4 linked regions of the Homo sapiens genome follow. The protein of the gene in region 4 interacts with the protein of the main gene of each other region in a pairwise test. Each region holds a gene or a part of one and is shown on either strand. Other genes may lie near its edges.

Region 1 (4,114 bases), on a different chromosome or scaffold from region 4:
CACTTTCTGCTATCCCGACAGCACCTCCTGGGAAATTCACCCTCAGCTGTGGTCTGTGTCCCAGCCCGGGCCCTGGGTTTGGTGTGGGGCTCTAGGTGAGGCTGGGAAGCAGGAGTGTCCCAGGCAGAGGGGCCAGACATGGGGGAGAGAAAGAGCGGACACCCGGTGGGCAGCACAGATCCCAAACCCACTCCACTCCCCTGGAGGCTCTGGCCTGTGCACCCATCTTCGTCTCATCTTCACCCTGCAAGGATGGGAGGCTGAGACTCCCTGGGGCAACCCGGGAGAGAGGGTTCCAGGACCAAGGGGAGCTCTGGAGAGGACAGAAAAGCCGCTCCTCACCCCATTCCATAAAGAGACAAAGGTGCCCAGAATGGCATGAAGATCAGCAGGAAGGGGGACCCACAGTGCCACGCCCCTGCCCCACACCTGGCCCCATGCCTAGATGGGGTGGTTCTCCCACAGGACAGGAGTAAGGCCGACTGGTCCCCAGACTCCCAGGAAGAAAGCTCTGCAGGGACCATCTCCCCAGAACCTTCTGGAACCCAGGACAGGAAGGTGTGTGTGGGTGGGAGAGAAGGTCTTCTCTCCTTCATTTTCTGCTCATGACACCCCTCCCTTCCCGGGAGCTACTGTTCTTGTTCCTGCAGCAAAGATGCCACACGGGGCGGCGGTTGGAACCCTCCTACCCAGGCGGCTTCCTTCGGAGAATGCCAGACTTCGCGGGGAAGCGCACGCTGGCGGGAGGTCAAAATCATGTGCATTGGATTCCAGCCTCTTTTTAAGCCCAGGCTTTATTCCAGCCTCTTTTTGAGGAATTTGACTGAAAAGTTCCCTCCCTCTCGGCTGATGCGCCGTCCCATCCTGGGCTCCTAGTGTAGGGCTCCTACCCTTGGCTCCAGCAATGCTGATGATGAGGTGCTGGGGTCCCCGAGGACAGGAGGCCTCCAGGAAGGAACCGGCCTCAGTCCACGCCGTCCAGGGACTGTGGCTCTGCCCTCTCGAGCTGTAGCACCTGGAAAGAGAGGCCTGTGACACCACAGCCCCGCAAAGACGGACTGTGGGGCTGTTGAAACACTGGCACGCACCAAAAGCGGGTCACAAGTCCCAGAGGTGAAAAAGTAAATTACCAGAGTCCCCACCAGATGCTGGGCGTGTGTGCTGGAAAAGCCTGGAGGGGCGGGTCCAGATCACGCATAGCTGTCACTGCAGATGACAGCAGCGTCTCCACCTTTACCTGCAGCTGTCTCTGATGCTCCCACATGCGTCACTCTTTTGGCTGCATAGTGTCTGAACCCCCTTCCTGATCTGGGGGAGCCCGCCCCTGAGTACATCTTGGTGGGAGCCAAGCCCCCACCTCCCACTACAGAGGCCAGAGCTGGGGCAGCTCCCTCTCCTGCCCTGGGTGGCCAGATGACAGGGCCCATCACCCGAGGCTTGGCCACTCCACTGCCTGGTGACCCAGGGACACTGGGACTCAGGGATGGCAGAGCAGATTGGCATCCAGCCCAGGCTGGGTGTGGCGTGTGGGCTCCGTCCAGCCACAGCAGGGGATATAGGGCAGCAGCCACCTGGCCTGAGTCCCAGCTTTCCAGACCCTGTGACCCCTGCCCTCCCTTCCACCCTCTAAGTCACTCTTTGAGCAAGTTCCTTTCCACGGAAATCAGCCAGATACAGTATCTCTTCCTTACAACCATGCAGCCCCAAACGTCTTCTAGTCCCAAATGTTCAGCATTCCTCAACCTTGGCACCACCAACACGTGGAACAAAGAATTCTCTGCTGGGTGTGGGGTTGGGAGGGGCCCATCCTGCACACAGTAGGACATTCAGCAGCATCCCTGGGCTCCACCCACGGGATGCTGGGAGCACAGACCCCAGCCCAGTCATGATAACCAAAATCATCTCCAGTCATCGCCTAATGTCTCCTCGGGGGGTCAACGGTCCCAGATGTAGAACCCCTGCCACTGATCCACCCTCGTTTTACAGGCCACCTGCTCAGAGATGCTGTCACCGATCATGAGGTATAAAGCGGCATCTTGTGGCCTCTAGCTCAGCACAGGCGGGTTTTCCTCATGTCCTTAAGGAAGAGTTCAAGACATCTTCCTGATTAGAAGGTTACTACTCTGTGGTCATACAGCACCTGTGTGTGCCTCTGTTGTGCACTGATCACACTGTGCTATGGTCTCACAGGTGCTGGAAGGACACTAGGTGTCCTCTAGCTCAGTGTAGACTCCTCAGGATTTATCACTGTTTTTAATTTTTTTAATTTAAATTTTGTTTTGCGACAGGCTCTGGCTCTGTCACCTAGGCTGGAGTGCAGTGGCACGATCACAGCTCACTGCAGCCTCCATCTCCTTGGCTCAGGTGATTCTCCCTCCTCAGCCTCCCAAGTAGCTGGAACCACAGGTGTGCACCACCACGTTTGGCTAATTGTTGTATTTTTTGTAGAGATGGGGTTTTGCCATGCTGCCCAGGCTGGTCTCCAACTCCTGGGGTCAGGTGATCCTCTCAAAAGTGCTGGGATGGCAGGCGTGAGCCATTGCAGCCGGCCTCTGATTTATCATTGTTGACAGTGACTCACTGGCCGGCTCTCTCCTCTCGTCAGATGATCCCCTGCGCTAGGGAGGCCATGGCCAAGCTGCTCTGTCATGGCTCCCAAACTGGCTTTGGAAAAGGGAAGGGCCTATCCTTTTTCATTGATTGTATTGTCCTTTCTTGATTCTATTAATAATTAATTAGAAAAAGAAAAGGAAAGCAGGGTGGGTTGGAAGCCATGACGCCATCTGGATACCCTGGCTACTTAGAAACGACAGTGATTGTCACCATACTCATAGAGGGGTGTCCAGCTGCTAATTTTAGTTTATGTAATGCCAGCAAATAGAGCCTAGCCAAAAGGAGTGCATGCCAGACTCTAAACACACTCAGCAATTAGTGTAGCCATTGTGGAAGGCAGTGCAGAGATTCCTCCAAAGATTAAAAATAGAACTACCCTGCGATCCAGCCACCCCATTACCGGGTATAACTGACAGGAAATGAACTCATCTGCCGACGAGACATCTGCACGCCCGCGTTCACCACAGCGCCATTCCCAACAGCACAGCTGTGGAATCAGCCTGAGCGCGCACCGATGGATGAGTGGATAGAGAAAGTGCGGTGCACACACAGTGGAGAACTATGCAGCCTTAGGAAAGAAGGAAATTCTGCCATTTGCAACAATACGGATGAACCTACATGAACATCTTAAAGGGAAATAAGCCAGGCAGAGAAAGACAAATACCGCATGGTCTGATTCGTCTGTGGAATCTTGAAAAGGTGATCTTGTGGAAGCAGAGAGTGCGACGGTGGCTACCAGGGGCTGGTGGGTGGGGAGATTGTTGGTCAAAGGCCACAAAAGAAGTAAGTTCAACAGCTCCAGTGCATGACATGGTGACTGTAGTTAATATAGGAAAATTGCTAAGAGAGTAGATTTTAAGTGCTCTTACCACACACAAATAATAGGCGTGTGGGGTAAGGCACGCACATGTGAAATAGCTTGACTTAGCCATTCCACTGTGACACACATATCGAAATGTCATGTTGGACACCATCAATATATAGAATTTTTATTTGTCAACACGAAAAAAGTAAATTTAAAAAACGCTTTAAACATACTTGTCCCTTTGCAGAAAGGAGGACAGTAAAAAAGTTACTGTGTATATAAGAAAGTTTTTCAATCCTTCATGGAAATAACCTCACGTTTCTTCTACAGACATGAAACATGGAGAGAGAAACATTTCTGCTGGATTTACCTGATTTTCTATGCACCGAAACTGCCAAGGCCAGCTTGTGTTGTACAGAAATGGTCGCAGATCAAACCTGTTGTCCTCAGGGCTGTAGTTCTCGGCGTGGTACGCGGGTGTGAGCGTGGTCATCTTGTGTCTGTTCATGGAGTACTTGGAGAAAAACCGCTTCACTTTGTCAGCGACCTGGTGGGCGTGCAACACACGAGCTTCATGTTACCAAAACTGGAGAGACCCCAGGCCGGAATTCCCATGCTGGATCATACAAGCAAATGACTAATGGGTTACTCCCCGCACAGGACCTTCCACGATGGCAGGTGTGGGGGATGCCCGTG
Region 2 (3,500 bases), on a different chromosome or scaffold from region 4:
AGGGATGCTGTACTTTATTATTAGTTAACAAAATCTTTCTTCATAGTACAGAGCTTTCTTTTTTTGGAGGAAAGGGAACACGTTCTTCATTAATATTAATGTTACCTCAATGAAATCTGTGACAATAATAAGTGTATTTTGCTTAACTTTACATTTAGCATATTTTATTTTGTATTTACGGTCTCATCCAAATCCAGAATATTTCAGTTTCTTCTCCTTTAGGAAACTGTTTTAGGCATTTTGTATGTTTATCCTTACACACATTTCACTCCTTTTTGATGTTTAGTTATATCTTACTATTCTTAAGCTTGACCTTTATTCTCAGTAGCCCATTTGTATCTAATTGTTTATGTAATTAGGTTCATTTACTATTTGATATTTCTTCCTTTTTTTTTTTTTTTGCCTAAGTGTGTTGCCTTTACTCCTTTTCACAGACTGTTACCCTATTTCTGAAAGAATTTAGTAGCTTTTTCTTGCTTTATTTGCAGATGGCATCATAATAGCAGCTTTCCCATCCTCTACTCCTCCTGCTCCCCCACCCGTACCCCCATCCCTTCCTTTTCTTTCTTCCCTTTTTGGGCTTTTAATCTCTGCTAATTTGCCTTTTTGGTATGTTCTTCCAAACCCAAATACCTGTTTAGTTACAGTCATAAAGATATATCTTTTATTTCTTTTGTTGATAGAAAATGATGGTTCATAGTAAACAACTATAAATACATGCAACTGCCACAGCCTTTATATGGTGCTACTCTCTCAAAGTGTTTATTTGCATTAGTCTTAAAAAAAAAGGTCACATTTTAATGGAAAGTTTTAGGTAAATTTTATCTTTCTCTTTAATCATTGTAATTTATTTTATGTAAATTTCAGGATTAGAATGGCTGAACACAGAAGAACCTATTTCTGTCTACAAGGATCTATGTGGAAAAATAGTCGTCCTTGATTTCTTCACCTACTGCTGCATAAACTGTATTCACCTATTGCCTGATCTCCATGCATTAGAACACACATACTCTGATAAAGGTATCTGCTCTTTAATTAGTTTCTAACAGACTGTCCTGGCATAGTCACTGGAAGAGTGGCTGACTCATTAGCTCATAGGAGAATGAACATTTGGCAAGGCTTCAGGGATTCTAAAAGTAATCTCTTATCTATGAATTAAAGACTTCATGTACCTTTTCATAAAGGATTAAGCTTAGTGATAGTGGTTTGCCTATCTAAAGAACCAGCATTTAGTATATGGTTTTTCTCTGCGGATAGGGGCATAATTTGCTATTTTTCATGATCAGATATTTTAAAAGGTCTTTTTGTATGTTGAGGCTGACTTAAATTTGTTCTATTAAAAAAATAAAATATCTGACCTTAATTTTACACTGTTTTCACTGTGATACAAAGGTTTAAAGTTCTTATTAGGAAATGTGACTAGGCTTTCATTAATATTGAATGACATGAACTGCAGTGGAATGCAAAATATAACAGATACTCTTTCTTTGACCCTGCTTCATTAAAAAATGATTTATTACAGCTAATGTTTTTCAAAGCACACTAGGAAATCCATTTTTATGGTATTACAAATTCTAAAGATGTAGGAGATTATACTTATTGGCTTTAGAAGTTTGAAAAATTAATCAAATTTTTTTTGTCTACTTTCTAAAAAAAGAACATGGGAGTAAATGAAATTAATTAAAAGTATCATTTAATTAGGTTCAAGTGAATTGAAGCACTAATCTTGGAGTGGATAAAAAAAAGAGATAGGGTCACCGATCCTGTGTTAGTAAAGATGAGAATAGACTATATACGTGTGAAAGTAAAGGATATTCTGAAACTTAACTTTAAAGGGGAAGTGATAGAGAAATCTTCAGTGCAACTGAAACTTCAGATGCTTTTGAATTGTAATACATTGTATGTTAAAATTACCAGTCAAATGATTTATCAAGAACTCAAATATTTCTACTAGCTAAATCCTGTTATTAAAAATTTATCTGTATGGATTTAAGAAATATGGATATCTTATCTCCTAGGTTTTAGATGCCAGTGTTTCTTGTTCAAGACATCACGTTTATTGAACATGTTGTTATGTGCAGGGTACTCTGCTAACTGCTGAGGAAATATGTAACAAAATTGAATAAAAAACATTATGGAACCTAAGGAAAGGAATAAGTCACTTTGCCTAGAAACATTGGAAAAGATTTCTCAGAGAAGGAGACAATTGAGCTAGAACTTGAAAAATAAGCAGGAGTGCAGCTGAAAATGAAAGTGGGGCAGAAGGGACACTCCTGGCTGAGGAAGCTTCAGGTAAACAAGCATGGAATCACAGAGGAGTAGGATTCTTGCTCCAAGAACAGGTAAATAATTTAGTGTGGCAAGATTGTAAGAGTTCATGGTAAAAGTAAAAGGAGACAAAGGTAGGTTAGGTTAGGAGCACATTGTGAAATGCATTGTATAGCGTTCTTAATAGTTTAGACTTTTCCTTCTGTGAGGATACAGAGATTGAAGTTTGTTTTTGATTTGTTTTTTTAGTAGACGGATGACATTTGTGTTTTAGAATGGCATTACACATGGAGTTAAGAATCTCAAAGTTTACCAGTTCCATACCTAAGATCACCCCTGAAAGACTATTTGGTGAACTCATGGTTAACCCCATACCTTAAGCAGATTCAGTGACTTCCTAGAATGGATCCTTATAATCTCCTACTAGTTTACTGGAAACATTGTTTTTATAGCACATTGTGACAAAAAAATTAAAAATATTTTTATATACAAATATGCTTCTGAAAAGCAAAATACTTTGTAAGTGGAGCAAGAATTCACTGTCAGTTTCAACAAAGAATCACAAAGCATACACAAAGAACAGGGAAGTACAGCCCATTCAAGAACAGGGAAGTACAGCCCATTCAAAGGAAAAAAATAAACCGATAGAAATTGTCTCTAAAAAATACCTGATACATATCTATGAGACAAAGACTTTAAAACACTGTCTTAAAGATGCCCAAATAACTAAAGGGAAATATGGAAAAAGTTTTAAAAAAACAATGTATGAAGAAAATGGAAATACAATAAAGAGAAAACCTAAATAGAAGCTAGAAAGAAATTCTGGAACTGAAAAGTGGACTAACAGTGAGGAGAAACTCACTACAGAGGCTCCTTGACTTATAGTGCAGCTGATAAACCCATGGTAAGTTGAAAATATCATGAAGTTGAGAAAGTATGTTTAATGCTTGGTAGCACAGCAGATGGTCCCTGACTTATGATGATTCGACTTAAAATATTTTGACTTGATGGTGGAAAGGTGATACTCAGTAGAAATCATAACTTTCTAAATCCTAAGGAGCTCTTTGACTTACAGTGAATTATGTCCAGATAAACTCATCGTAAAGTTGAAAAATTATAAGTCATACCCTCATAGGTCAGGGGCCATGTAGAGACTCGAAGACAGATTTGAGTAGGCAGAAAGAAGAATCAGTGAACCTGAAGATAAGGCAATGGAAATGATTAAGGAACAA
Region 3 (2,712 bases), on a different chromosome or scaffold from region 4:
TGACGTGGGCCCATAGGATTGGGGATGGGTGGTGGGGTCTGACTGCCTTGTCCCAAGAGTTGGGTGAATGCCGCCTTTGCTCACTTGTGCGGTCACTCTCCAGGACTCCTGCCTGGCTTCTCCCACTCCAAGCCCGAGATAGCCCAGCAAGGAGGAAGGTCTGGCCCCAAAATACGAGCTCCCCAAGTGGATATCCTAAAATTCATCTTTCATGGCCCTACTTTATTGGGAGGGAATGTGAAAATTGTGGGAATATGTCCATTGACATCTGGGGCTCAGGGCAGGGGAGTGTGTCTAGTTTTAAGGTGTGCGCTTTTAGCCATGCAGTCATCGCCCAGTCTGTCCTGCCTGGAGCTTTTCATTTCCCTGCAGCTTTCCTGAGAAAAGACAGAGTGTGCTTTCTCTGCATCCTATGAACATGGCCCCAGGACTGCAGCACCTCTGTGTGCACACAGCCAAGGACAGTCGGGGGACCTCTGCTGGTCCTGCACCCGCTGCCCTGGGTGCTCTGTCATCCCCATCCCCCATTTCTCTTTAATCTGTTCTTCTTTTGTGGTTTCATGTTCTCTTTGTTCTGGGTTATTCAGAACCTGTCTGCCTCCCCACTGTCCATTGTACTTGTTCCTGCCTCCTCCTGCTTTGTGCCAAGGATTTACTTGCCTTCGCCTTCTGGCTCCATACAGTAGTCTCTCTTCTTGCGGTCTTGGCCATTCCCCCCACCAGGCCCCCAGCTGTGGCTGTGTCTGGGTCTTGGCATTTGTGATTTACATGGGTCTAGGCCCTTTCTCTCCACCTGTCCTTCCCCTCTTTGGACACAAACCAAAACATCTGAGCATCTCCTTACAGAGGGAGGTCTCCCTGGGGTTGCTGTGCCAAGTTTCCATTGCTTTTGCCCAGAATGAGAAATCAGTTGTCAGTGGCCCTGCTGGGTGAATGGAAGGACTTTGGTCGGGCTGGAAGGGCACCCCATCAGTCCTAACTTTTGGTGGCCCTTGTTGGTGGCTGGCTGGCTAGGCTGCTAGAGAGGTACATCAGGTGGGTGGCACCCATCTGCTGGCTTTAGGCAGGCCATCTCCTCATCCATGTTTTCAGAATCTTCTTGCATGGCTTGTAATTGGGTTGGGGTGTGGCCTGAGCCCCTGTGGGGACACACTGCACTGTCCCACCTGTATGCTTCTCTGCTGTCAGGAACTGGATTCGTGTCCAAGAGCCAAGGCTAGGGACTGGAGGAGGAGATTTCTGTCTTTGACCCCTCCATATTAGTCCATTTTCATGCTGCTATAAAGAACTGCCTGAGACTGGGTAATTTATAAAGGAAAGAGGTTTAATTGACTCACAGTTCCACGTGGCCCGGGGAGCCTCAGGAAACTTACAGGAAGCCTCAGGAAACTTACAATCATGGCAGACAGCGAAGGAGAAGCAAGGCACCTTCTTCACAAGGCAGCAGGAAGGAAAATGAATGCAGAAGGAACTACCAAACACTTATAAAACCATCAGATCTCGTGAGAACTTACTATCACAAGAACAGCATGGGGGAACCGCCCCCACGATTCCATCACCTCCACCTGATCTCTCCCTTGTCACATGGGGATTATAGGGATTACAATTCAAGATGAGATTTTGGGTGGGGACACAGCCAAAGCATATCACCCTCCCAGGCCTGAGCAAGGCCCAAGCAGGGAGCCTCTGTTGGGGCTGGAACCCTGGGAGGGGTAGAATTCTCCCCTCCACTCAGATTTGTTCCCTGTTGCTGCCCACCTGGCCCCTGCCCTGCAGCCTTCTGCCTGGCCTTCTCTCTGTTCACTTCTCATTTTTAGCAGTCAACAGACTGGGAGATGGTGGCCAAGGGTGTCATTTTGTACACAAGCTTTGTGGCTTTTGTAAGCCCAGCCTGCAACTCTTGAGGAAAACTCTTTGGTTTGATTTTTTTTCTCTTCAGAGTTGGGGGTATTCAGGGAGATGGGCAAGGGCTTCTTGTGAAGATTTCAATTCTTGAAGGGGTGGAAGCCTCCTGGGCTGGGGGAAGGGGTGGGGCAGGAACCAGCAGGGGTGTGGACACAGGGGGCTGGCACCTGGGATACCGTAGGACAGCTGGGCAGGAAGTCGGATGCTGCTTTATTGAAATTTTTGATATTTTATCATTTTTTCATTAGTTTTTATTTTAAAACACTGCTTTAAAATAATTAAAATATGATTTATCTTGGTTACCGAATCACTTAGTGTTGCCTTAAATTTTGCGCCTAGTCCCTGCCTGACCTTTCCTCCTCCTCTCCCAGGGCTTTAGGTACTCTTAGTCCCTGTGTCATAGGGACTGGGAGCAGATAGGCCCCTCCGCCCACCCCACCCCTCCCCCACCCCTCGCCCACCCCTCCCCCACCCCTCCGCGTTCCTACTCTAATCTCCTACCCTGATCTGCGGTGCAGGGCGGCGCTGGAGAGGGTGGCTTGCGGCTGATCCCGCGGTCTGGTTTGCGGCTAGGTGTGTGTCCCCGGACTGGCGTGGGTCCCGGGCCAGGCGTGGTCCTGGGCGGCGCGGCCCGTGACAGGACCCGACGCCTCCTGGTGGGCATTTCGCTCCAAGCCGGGACCCTCGGAGCCTGAGGGGATTCGGGAGGGAGGAGTCGCCGTGGGGCGGGGCGGGGCGGGGCGGGGGAGGGCTCCCAAGGCCCCGAGGACAGTCCCACCCTCACCGACAGGACCGTCCCTGCGCATC
Region 4 (3,500 bases):
AGTGGTGCCCTCTTTGGCAGATTTTCTTCCCTCAAATTCCTGCTGAGGCTCGGCTCTGGATGCCACTGGGCCGAGGAGAGTTCATTCTCACACAGCTGCCCACAGGGAGCAGACCAGAACTGACAGCCCACAGGCGGGGGTTCCCTCTAACCTGCAACAAAGCATGAGAGTGGCCCCAGGCTGCTTCCTCACCCCGGGAGGAAGTCAGAGGGGTCCAGGTCTCTGCCGCCCTCAGGGATAGCAGCTGCTTCCAGAATCTCTGTGGCTCCTGGAATACAGGCAGCTCTGGGCATCCCCACACTCCTGGGACCTCATCCACCCCAGTCCTCTGTTTGCTCTGGGCCAGTGAAGGTTAGGAGGAACCAGGCTTTGCTGCTTGCTGGCTGTGTGAGCTTGGAAACATCGCATCTGCCTGCTTCCTCATCTGTCTGGAGGGGATATAATGTGGCCCACCTCAGGGGCCACTGTGAGATGGATGAGGTGGTCCACACAGCACAGTCAGTGGCATTTACCTGTTGCTGACTTTTCCCACATACACTCAGTTCTGCTGTAACGCCACACATACGCTCCTAACAATCACTGTGCTGTGTAAAATCACACAAGGAAAACCACAGGGTTTATGGGGAAATGGAGTTAGGGGCACAGCACTCACAGACTTTGTCGGTGACACATTAAAAATAAAAGCACTAGCACCACTTACATTAAATGGTAAGAAATACCCAAGTACTGCTGCAGGCACGGCACCCTGCCTTGGAAAAGACCTGCCGTAGGCTTACAGCAGTGTGCACCTGCCCTCCCCGCAGCCCAGCTCCCGGCCACATCCTGTGTAGAGCGGGAAGAACAACAGAGACCTAGGAAGAGTAAAGGAGGGAAAGGAGGGAAGAGTGGAAGGAGGTAGGAGCGCTCCCGGGTAGACTTAGAGGGGGACACATGGTCCCTGCGAGGAAGGGCATATCCAGTGTGAAGCGGCTCCTGAACCAGGTGCTTAAGTGGTGATCTGCTTCCTCCCAGAACCTGACCTACGAGATCATCCTGACGCTGGGGCAGGCCTTCGAAGTGGCCTATCAGTTGGCCCTGCAGGCCCAGAAGTCCAGGGCGACGGGCGCCTCTGCAGCTGAGATGATTGAAACAAAATCTTCCAAACCGGTGCCTAAGCCTCGGGTCGGCGTGAGGAAATCCGCAGTACGTGGGCCCCACTGGCCAAGATCCCCCTCTCCCTGGCCCCAGGGATTCAAGGGCTCAGGGTGGTCAGCGTGAGGAGGGTCTTCTGGCACTTCCAGAAAGCTGGCCCTCCAGGGAAATGACCCTCTTAATTGTCCCCCAACCCTGCCAGGTCTCGCCCCTGGAAAGGCAGCAGCTCCTCTGGCCTGGGCGGGCCTCTCATGCTCCTGTTTCCCTCCCTCGCTGGGCTCCCCCAAGGGCAAGGCCGTCAAGGGGCTGCAGAGAGCGGCCTGCAGGCAGCCCCCAGTAACTGCGCCATCCCTGTGTCTGTGTCTGCTTTGCTCTGCACCCCAGGTGCCGCTGCCCCCCGATAGTCGCTGTTGTTACTGTCACACCTGCACCACCCACCGTCCTTCCTACCTACCGCTGCCATCTGTTAGTCCTGGAGTCAAGGTCTTTACGCCTCCTGCTGTCTTGTGTGTCAGTCTCCCCGAAGTGACCGTGAGCGCTCTTAGCCTCTGGCGGCCTCTCCCTCTGCCTGTGTGACATTCTTTCCCCTCTTCCTGAGATGCCCTCTGCCTGTTCTGTGTGTGCTTCAGCCCTCTCTGTTTTTCTGTTGTGTGTCCTCTCTCCAGAGGTCTGGGGTGACTGCTGTGGTCTTGCCTTGGGGTGAGCTCTCTGGGCCTACCAGAGAGACCCGAGGCTGGACATTTGCAAGCCCCATATCCCCTTCCTGCCCAGTGTGAGTGGGTCTGGGGCTTAGAGCAGGAGGCCCGCCTAGGACAGGGGTCCTTTAACTGAGCAATCCCAAGAAATCCCGGAGAGAAGCTGTGCCTGGAGGTGGCCCTCCCCAAGATGCTCCAGGAGGGTGTCCCTCCTCCGCCTGCCCCCAGGGGCCTGCTCTTTGGCCGAGGAGAATAAGGGCTGCCCCTCCCAGCACAGGGGCCACAGCCTGGCCTGGGGGTGGGAGGGGCCTGCTGCCTCCAGCCCTGGCACAGAGCTCCCTCTGACTCTTGACTGCTTCCTTGTTTGGCAGCTGGAACCACCTGATATGGACCAAGATGCCCAATCCCATGCCAGTGTCTCCTGGGTTGTGGACCCCAAACCAGACTCTAAGCGGAGCCTCAGCACCAAGTATGAGACCACTATCTTCTAAAACAACCCACTCCCTGTCTCCACTAGTCTCACTGTGCCTTTGCCATCCGATCTTTCTGCTGTCCTCAACTCTCTCCTTCCAGCTGCTGATGCCAAGGCCCCACCTGCACTGGGACCTGCTCCTCTTGGGCGGGCGGCAGCGTAGACGCTGTACACTTGCAGCTCTCGCACCTACCACCACCGAACACTGTGAATTCTCCCCCTTGGGCTGAGGACAGCTTGAGGGGGTGAGTTGCCTTTGAGGTGGGCATCAAGAGGGCTCAGGGGTTCTGTTGCACCCTGGAAGCCTCCACGGGCAGGCACTGTGAACCCCGACGGGCAGGGCAGTCTCCAGCAGGATCCCAACGGCACTGATAGCTCCCCAGGGTTGGGCTGGGCTCTGTGTGGCTCCCTCCTCCTGTCTGCTGTACTGAGCCACAGCTGGGCACCGTTGCCAAGAGCTAGCTGACTGTTCTCACCTCTCCTGAACCAACCAACCACTGTGACCACCCAGTGCCAGAGTCCCCAGCACTCTGCTCACAGCCGGCCTGCAGCCCCACCCCACTGTCCTCCGCTACTCCGAGGTGCTGGCCTCACTCTCATGGCTAGGCCCTTGTGAGACCTTGAGCTCAGTGATGTGGCTGGACCAGGGACAGACTGCTTTCTGTGAGGGCCCAAGATATGCGCCAGGCCCTTGGGTCCGTGCTGACTGCCCCACTTGGGGCTCTGGGTATCTGAACACTCACAGGCTGGCTCACACAGCAGGTGTCTCAGTCCTGATGGGCCTTCCCCTCCAAGGAGGTGGGTGGCATGTGTGTGGACAGCCCCTCTATCTTCGCCATGGAGTCTCAAGGCCTGGCAGCCTTGGGCCTGGCTCTGGAGTCTAGCTCACTGAGGAGGAAGGCCTTCCGTAGAACCAACGAGGAGGCGGCCTGTGCCCTGCACACACGGCGCACCTTCTTCCCTCACAGAACAGAGCTGCTGGAGGACAGGGACCTGGACCAAGTGGCCTCCATTGTCCTCTGGGAGCTTTCTGACACTCTCCACGGTGGGGGATCACAGATAGACAGCGCCGTCCAGCATGCCCCTGACCACCTCCCTCAGCCTCCTGACTCCTCCGAAAGGAGAGGCCGTCCCATCGCAGCAGCTCAGAAGCTGGGATGGTGGAGCTGAGTCTTTGAAGAGGCACCCCATTCTCCAGTGTG

Evidence for each region.
Region 1: the proteins of ANKS1A (region 4) and NADSYN1 interact in a two-hybrid assay, tested with the Homo sapiens proteins (one large-scale study listed by BioGRID).
Region 2: the proteins of ANKS1A (region 4) and NHLRC2 interact in a two-hybrid assay, tested with the Homo sapiens proteins (one large-scale study listed by BioGRID and IntAct).
Region 3: the proteins of ANKS1A (region 4) and GPRIN2 interact in a two-hybrid assay, tested with the Homo sapiens proteins (one large-scale study listed by BioGRID).

What each region holds. Positions count from the first base shown.
Region 1 is NC_000011.10:71,498,203-71,502,316, reverse strand, and holds the end of NADSYN1 (glutamine-dependent NAD(+) synthetase), read right to left. Parts: intron 3,966-4,114; coding exon 3,789-3,965; intron 1,016-3,788; coding exon 965-1,015; 3' UTR 501-964; downstream 1-500. UniProt on the Homo sapiens protein: Catalyzes the final step of the nicotinamide adenine dinucleotide (NAD) de novo synthesis pathway, the ATP-dependent amidation of deamido-NAD using L-glutamine as a nitrogen source.
Region 2 is NC_000010.11:113,857,661-113,861,160, forward strand, and holds part of NHLRC2 (NHL repeat-containing protein 2), read left to right. Parts: intron 1-867; coding exon 868-1,020; intron 1,021-1,026; exon of another isoform or gene 1,027-2,342; intron 2,343-3,500. UniProt on the Homo sapiens protein: Required for normal embryonic development.
Region 3 is NC_000010.11:46,541,236-46,543,947, reverse strand, and holds the end of GPRIN2 (G protein-regulated inducer of neurite outgrowth 2), read left to right. Parts: 3' UTR 1-2,212; downstream 2,213-2,712.
Region 4 is NC_000006.12:35,084,755-35,088,254, forward strand, and holds part of ANKS1A (ankyrin repeat and SAM domain-containing protein 1A), read left to right. Parts: intron 1-1,011; coding exon 1,012-1,182; intron 1,183-2,197; coding exon 2,198-2,295; coding exon of another isoform or gene 2,296-2,317; exon of another isoform or gene 2,318-3,500. UniProt on the Homo sapiens protein: Regulator of different signaling pathways. Regulates EPHA8 receptor tyrosine kinase signaling to control cell migration and neurite retraction.